2 separate regions of the Homo sapiens genome follow, and region 1 is reported to be linked to region 2. Evidence: microRNA targets listed by miRTarBase, many of them from high-throughput screens and not tested one by one. Region 2 holds a microRNA gene; the other region holds the end of a gene's coding sequence.

Region 1 (3,410 bases), not on the chromosome of region 2:
TAGGTGTGATCAAGTTAAGATGAGGTCTTGATGGATTAGGGTGGGCTCTAAATCCTATGACTGGTGTCCTTAGAGAGAGATTTAGTCACAGACATGGAGAACAAGCGACCATGTGATACCTTGATTTCAGACATCTGGCCTCAAAAACGGTGACAGCACACATTTCTGTTGTCCTTAGCCATGCAGGGCACTTTGTTACGGCAGTCCTGAGTTAAGGTCCCTGCCTCTCTTATTGGCTGTGTAAATTATGGGACCACATTGAGCCCTGTCCTTAACTGCAAAATGGGTATGAGGACCCAGCTGGTAGGTGATGCATGGTGGAATTAACACAGGTACAAGCGGTGGAAAGCATCCAGGTAACAGAGGGCTTGTGCTCACTCCACAAGTCCCAGCCACGTGGAGGGTTTAGCCTCTCCTTGCCCCACGTACCGTGTCGTCGATGCTGCCGACACACTGGTCCCCAGGGCTGGTCTGTTGGTGGTCTAGCTGGCTCCCACTCAGCCTTCAAGCCTTTCATCAAAGTCATGTTCCCAAGAAAGATTTCCATTAGCCCCATTCCTCCCCCTACCTCCAGGTGGAGCTGGTCTCCATTAGGAGTCCTTCACTCCTTTCTCCCCCACAACACGGTCTTCCTAAAGCACGGTCTGCCCTTGTTTGCCACAATCAGCACTTCAAGGCTGACACCTGACACACAGAAATGACTCCATCCTAAACTTTCTATTTCGGGACTGGGGTTGCCAATTCATGGGACCCAGAAAACAGCAAGTCATCGATGTGCTTTCCTTTGGGTGCCTGGTATAACACCAATTCCCATTTGGTTAGTGGTGACTGAGTGACTCGTGTTTCAAGAGCAAATTAAATGAATAGCAAGAAAATAGACACCTGCCACACCAGCTGTCCTACTGTCATCTAGGGGTGACTATTTTGGGGAGGCAGCCATTGGTGTATGTATAAATACGTACATTAGGTTTCATGTTTGTTTTATTTAAAGTCTGGTTGGGTACAGAAAACACACACACACTTAACAGGTTAAAATATCCAAATAAAATTTACTGCAACTTTTGTAGAATTTTATTTGTGCTACAAGACACGTTGCATAGGAAACTATTTAAAGCCCCTGAGGAAAAAATATCCATGGTTTAAGGTGCAACTGGTTTTGTTTCTTCTTTGGGGAAAAGGTGATAGATGGTCTCTGGGAGAAATTATGGGGTGGAGTTGAGAAGCACAATCGAAGGTTATATGGTGGGATGATTGGCGAATTGTGTGTCCTGGTTCTTGCAGCATAAAATAGCTAATGTTTGTTCTTTTTTTCAGTCCGTTGGTCTTCAGTATCTGAATAAGTAGCTATACAACGTTTCAGGCCAGTAAGGGAGTATACATTGATTATACTAAGGAAGTAACATGTTTCAAGAAAGCAGTTTTAGAGAATGAGATTCGGGATCCCAAATGGTCCCTGACAACTGCAGGCACACAGGAAGTGTCCTGGCACGTTGCTAAGGATCACCTCACTCTACTGATTTGCCAGTATCAGTCCTTCCTCCTGCTCCCTTCCAACACGCGACATCTACGACGCATTGTGAGATTCACACAGCATGTCTGCACCCTAAAGTTATTAATGCAACACTGTGTCAAGTTCCTGATTTTATGTGAGTCACATTTTCATTTTTACAAAATGCTCATCTTGCTCAGATGATCTTTACATTGTACAAAAAATGGTTTCATCTAAACTATGACTTCCTTCCGAGGAGACACAGGTACACCAGGAAGGAAGAGGGGTTAAGCCTTAGATGAAATGAAATGCAGAGTTTGGCAAATGGCAGCTGGCACCTCTGCACATCAGCATAAGGCGTTGCTTGTGAGGCCAACCACAGCATCTGCAATAAGCACGAGAGTCAGTGGCCACCAAGGCTCTGATTCGGTCATGAAGTTTTCTTCCTGTCCACAGAAGAGGCAGCAAACTCTATGGGAAGCACTGCTTTGACCTCAAGGAAAAAACAGTACAATGGCCTCGTAGCAGCAGGGACCACCTCACTCTCAAATGGCATTGTTCTTGTCAATGACTAATTGCACACTGGCAGGGGCCCTAAAGACTGTCAACTCATGGCTGCTTTCTAATCTATTGGCAGAAACAGCTCAGGGCACCTAAATGCTAATGCGGGACTTCACTCTGCCCACTGAAGCTCACCAAAGATTCACATATTCTATGGATGGTCATTTACTACGAGTGAGGCAAAGCACGGAAGACAATCAAATCCGAGGAGGGAGCAGGACCTGGGGCCTTCTCAGAAAGAATGAGCTGTACCCGTTTACTGAAAAGCCACTTTTTCCCACGTGATTCACCTTCTTACACGCAGGGAGTGAAAGAGGTCCAACAACCGAACGAGCATCTTTCCGGGCTGAGTGTTGAAATGCAAAGTGTGGCCGGGAATCAGAAACGCTCCCAGTGACCTTTAAATACCTATATACATCTCTAACATAATTTAAAAAGGTCTATAACAACATAAAAACCTCAACAGCCTGTGCCCCTATTTTCTTTTAAACCTTTATGGTCCATAAAAAAATTAGATACCACCTTTCTCATAGATCCCTTCCCCCCATTCGTTAAAAAAGTGATTTTAAATTTAAATTTATACTTAACAAATAGAAAGCTATGTGATTGGCAACGAGCTGCAGTAGGCAGTCCCTTCAGGCCTCTCCCTCGATGGAGGAGGGCGGCGCATGATGGGTGTAGCCTAGCTGGCGGGCCCTAAATCTGTCTGAGCAGCCGCCCCTTCCTCCCTCTTCAGCTCCGCGGTGACAGCAGGGCACGCAGGGCAGAAGAGGGCTTGCACTCCAGAGCAGCAGGAGGGGAGGGGACCCATTCAAATCACGAAGTCGTCCTGGTCCGCAGGGCTGAAGGCGGCTGCTCTCAGAACGTCCAGGGAGTTCACCAAGATCAGAGTCCCAGTGAGGTGCTTCCAGCGCTTGGTGATGGGGTTTTTCATCTTGTCCAGGCCCAGGTGCAGCTCCTGGATGACATCCCGGTAGCTGTCCCCGATCTGATGGCTCCAGGTGAGTAAGAAGTCATACGCAGGCTTCCACATGGCCTGGGAGGTGGAGTTGTAAAAAACAAAAGGAGGGAGAGAGGAAGAAAGATTAGGAGACAGAACGAGATTTGTTCCTATTACTTGGTGCAGCTTCAGTAGTCACTATTTGGGACACTCTTTCACGAGTGAGACAAGCCCACAGAAGAAACAGTGGAACCATCTCGGGGCCAGGGTCAGCACATTCCAGAGGGAAAAGCAGGGCTTTGTGCAAGAGTAGGTGCGCAACAAATGAATAAACAGAAAGGACTTCTCTTTCCTTACAATCTTTATGGCACTTTCTCTCTGTGCCATTTGTTTGGAAATTCATCCCATTCATAAAAGACA
Region 2 (3,410 bases):
AGACCCTGTCCAGAGCCGGGCACAGAAGTGTTTGGTGAATGGAGAAATGAGCCATCAAATGGGGCTTGGGTTAGCCCCCTGTTCTCTTCCACCCAGGCCTTTGCTGGTGTTTGCAGCTAGTTTCTCCTCCTCTGGGTTCCAGGGCGCCTCTGGCCATAGGACTTTTATGACACCGATCTCGTGCTGCCCCCAGTGGTGCTCCGGCACCCAGCCCTGTTAGAGGAGTTTAGGATTTGTTCTAAGGGCCATCCACTGTCTGAGGGCAGGAACCAAAACTGATTTTTTTTTTGGTTCACAAGGCCCAAAACAGAAGAGATGCTTGGTAAATGTTTAAACAATGAACTAGTTACTCTGAAAGGTGAGATTCGTATGAACTCTGCAGCTGGAAAATGACCCAACTCATGGGACATCTCTCACCATTCCTCAGTCAATACCAGTAATAATAGTAACTGACAATACTTACTATGCACCGGCCATGCTCCAGCCTCTGTTCTAAGTGTTTGCCTCATTTATTTAAAACTCGCCACCACCCAGAGAGGGAGGAACTGTTACCATCTTCTCTTCAATAGATGAAGCAACTAGGAGACCCAGAAATTGAGTAATTTGCATGAGGCTGGGTTGGCTCCAGAATCTGTGTCCTTAATTAATCACCCTCCTGCCTCTTTGCCTAAACAACAGCAACAATATTAGTGGTAATGAAAGTAGTCATAGTAGTAGCAATATATTTACTTCATTATTTATTTTAATTTTGTTATTATTACCAGTATTTACCATTAAACATATGTGTGTATGTTTAAGATATATTTAATGGTAAATACAGATAATAATACATACACAAGAAATATACACACACACATTTATAAACAAACAAGCTAAACATTTATATATATATATATATATATATATATATATATATATATATATATATAAGCTAGACTATATATGTGTGTATATATGTACCGTTTACTGTGGGCTGTCACAGTTCTAAGCATCTAAGCACTCCAGATACATTCATTAATTTAATCCTCCAGCCACCTTAAGATGTTAGACACTATTATCCTCATTTAACAAATGAGGAAACTCATTTGATGAAATGAGTACAGAGAGGTTAAACAACTTGTACAGGGTCCCCAGTTGGTAAGGGATGCAGCGGGGATTCAAACCCTGGGAGTCTGGTTTCGGAATCTGCACCCTTAAATATGCCAAAGATTCAGACCTCTGGCCAGGGAGTTGGGGCCAGCCTCTCTGGCCCGAGGGCACGCCCACTCACAGAGGACATGAAGACAAAGCATAGACTATCTGAGTGGGCTTGCTGGACTGACCCAGAGTCAAGCCAAAAAGGAAGGAAGCCCTATTGGGTTTTCTGCTAGCCCCTGCCAGCCTATGTGACCTTGAGAAAGTTGCTTGGTGTCTCTGTCCACTGATCTTCTGTTCAGTGTAATGGGGCAAGGTGGATGGGCTTTGACAGGAGTTGTGATGAGTAAGGAGCTTAGCTTCTCTGCCTGGAAGGAGCAAGGGGAACTCTGGTTCCTCTCCCACCTCCCTCCAGGTTGGCTGTTGCATTACGGGAGGACCCCCCCCCCACACACACACAGCTTCTCTAGGGCTGTTTCCTCTAGGTGGGACAGCCCCTGCAGGGCTTGAGGGTGGGCAGCACCAGGTATCTGCTGACTGTCCCTCCTCTCCTGCTGGCCGGATGGGACAGGAGGCATGAATGAGCCATCTTTCCAATGCCTTTCTGTCTTTTCTGGTCCAGGTGTGGCAAAGGGAAGCTGGAAGATGGGGATGGCATCAACCTGAATGACATCGAGAAGGTCCTTCCAGCCTGGCAGGTAGGTGCAGGGGCAGGCTCTCTAACAGCCCACCCCCACCCCTGGAGTCCTGATCCTCTTCCTGGACAGGACCTAACCAAAGCACTCCTTCTGGCTGCTTGTTCCAGCAAGGAGTGTAACCGCCTGTATGGTAGTAATAGGCAGGGCTGGCTACCTGCCATTCTCCAGGGTGTCCCATTGTGATCGTGTGTGTGACAGCCTACTCGGTGATGCTGCAGGCCCTGCTGGCAGGCCTGATGTGCCCTAGAGATGAAATAGACCATGCCCTGGCAACTCAGTGAACTTGGAAGTTTTTGTCCCTTGGCCTGAAACCTCTCTGCAGGTGAAGTGTCCTGTGGTGTGTTCAGGTGGGACTGGCAGGCCTGGAAGAGATTCTAATGTGGCTGGGGCTGTCTTTAGGCTTTTGAACAGTGGACTTGCCCTGCTGGCCTCCAGGTGTCTGCTATGCTTGCTCTTTTTTTTATTGATTGGGCCTCTTTCCTGGAATCAGGCCAGGTTCCAGGACAAAGAGGATTCACTCAGTGAATCCAGGTCTCTAGATACTTATAGTGCTGGACTTTTGGTGGAAACAGCAGGAGTCTAGCTGCTCTCAGGAGTGTGACTGGGCCTGCTGCAGGGGTGTAAAAGCAGTGGACCTTCCACAGTGACTGAGTCTGCCGCTGCCAGTGACCATGACCTACCACCACACTCCACTGTGCCACCCTTCCCTTCTCTCCTGATTCTTCTCCTGCTATTTTATCTATATCCATTCATCTCTTCCTGGTGCCTTTGCCATTTTGTTTCTTCTCTGTTCATGCCTTGGGCCTATCAATGAGAGACAATAGAGCATACAGTTAAGACCTCATCTATTTGATTATGATGTGCCTTGGTGTGGTGGTTTTCTTCATGTTTCTCCCACTTGGGATTTATTGAGTTTCTTGGATCTGTAGGTTTATAGTTTCATCAAATTTGGAAAATTTTCAGCCACGATTCCTCCTACTTTCCCTCAACCCTGGGGTTCCAATTGTATGTATTCTATGCTTCTTCATCTTTTCCCATGGCTCACCAAAGCTCTGCCTGATTTTTTAAAGTCTTTCTTTACTCTCTGTGTTTCATTTTGGATAGCTTTTATTGCTATTTCTTCAAGTTCACTAATATTTTATTCCAGTGTCAAATCTACTGTTAATCCCATTCAGTATATTTTTCATTTCAGACATTGTAGTTTTTATCTCTCGAAGGTCATTGTGGGCTTTTTTAATAAGCCACTGTGTCCAGCTAGAATCTGCATTTTTAAAGCATTGTAGGAAATTCTGATTATCAGCAAGAGTTGAAAACTTAAAGTCCTGGCTGATAATGCTCCTGGCTTGACTGCTCCTTGGAGTATCTACAATTCACATGGGTACCCTTAGGACAAGGTAGACAGGCTTCTTGATCCCCAAACACAGACTTTTGGTGTTTGAGGAATTTGCGGTCCTGTGAGAGCACAATGGGATGACTTATCTGAGTTTTCCTAGTGTTCTTCAAAGCCCCTCATAAATAGGGCTGGCTGGTTCACTCGTCTGGCCTTGGGTCCTGAGGGTCAGCTGGCCTAGCTATTAG

Evidence for each region. The annotated mature microRNA hsa-miR-4743-5p reads UGGCCGGAUGGGACAGGAGGCAU and lies in region 2 at 1,690-1,712, shown strand. An mRNA with a match to its seed (bases 2 to 7 or 8) in the 3' UTR can be bound and repressed. Matches are read on the target gene's strand: a 7mer-m8 pairs with bases 2 to 8, a 7mer-A1 pairs with bases 2 to 7 and ends in A, and an 8mer does both.
Region 1: the mRNA of SH3BP4 is a reported target of hsa-miR-4743-5p. Seed matches in the 3' UTR shown: 7mer-A1 at 2,419-2,425.

The regions. Positions count from the first base shown.
Region 1 is chr2:235,053,268-235,056,677 of GRCh38, reverse strand. It overlaps SH3BP4 (SH3 domain binding protein 4), which reads right to left. Exons shown (of 6, transcript NM_014521.3): 6 at 964-3,086. The coding sequence ends at 2,862. Among named protein-coding and RNA genes, the nearest start is that of SH3BP4, 100 kb to the right of the region's middle. RefSeq lists a silencer at 519-813.
Region 2 is chr18:48,668,913-48,672,322 of GRCh38, forward strand. MIR4743 (microRNA 4743) reads left to right here and starts at 1,688; the gene lies at 1,688-1,756. It overlaps CTIF (cap binding complex dependent translation initiation factor), which reads left to right. Exons shown (of 12, transcript NM_014772.3): 6 at 1,757-1,832.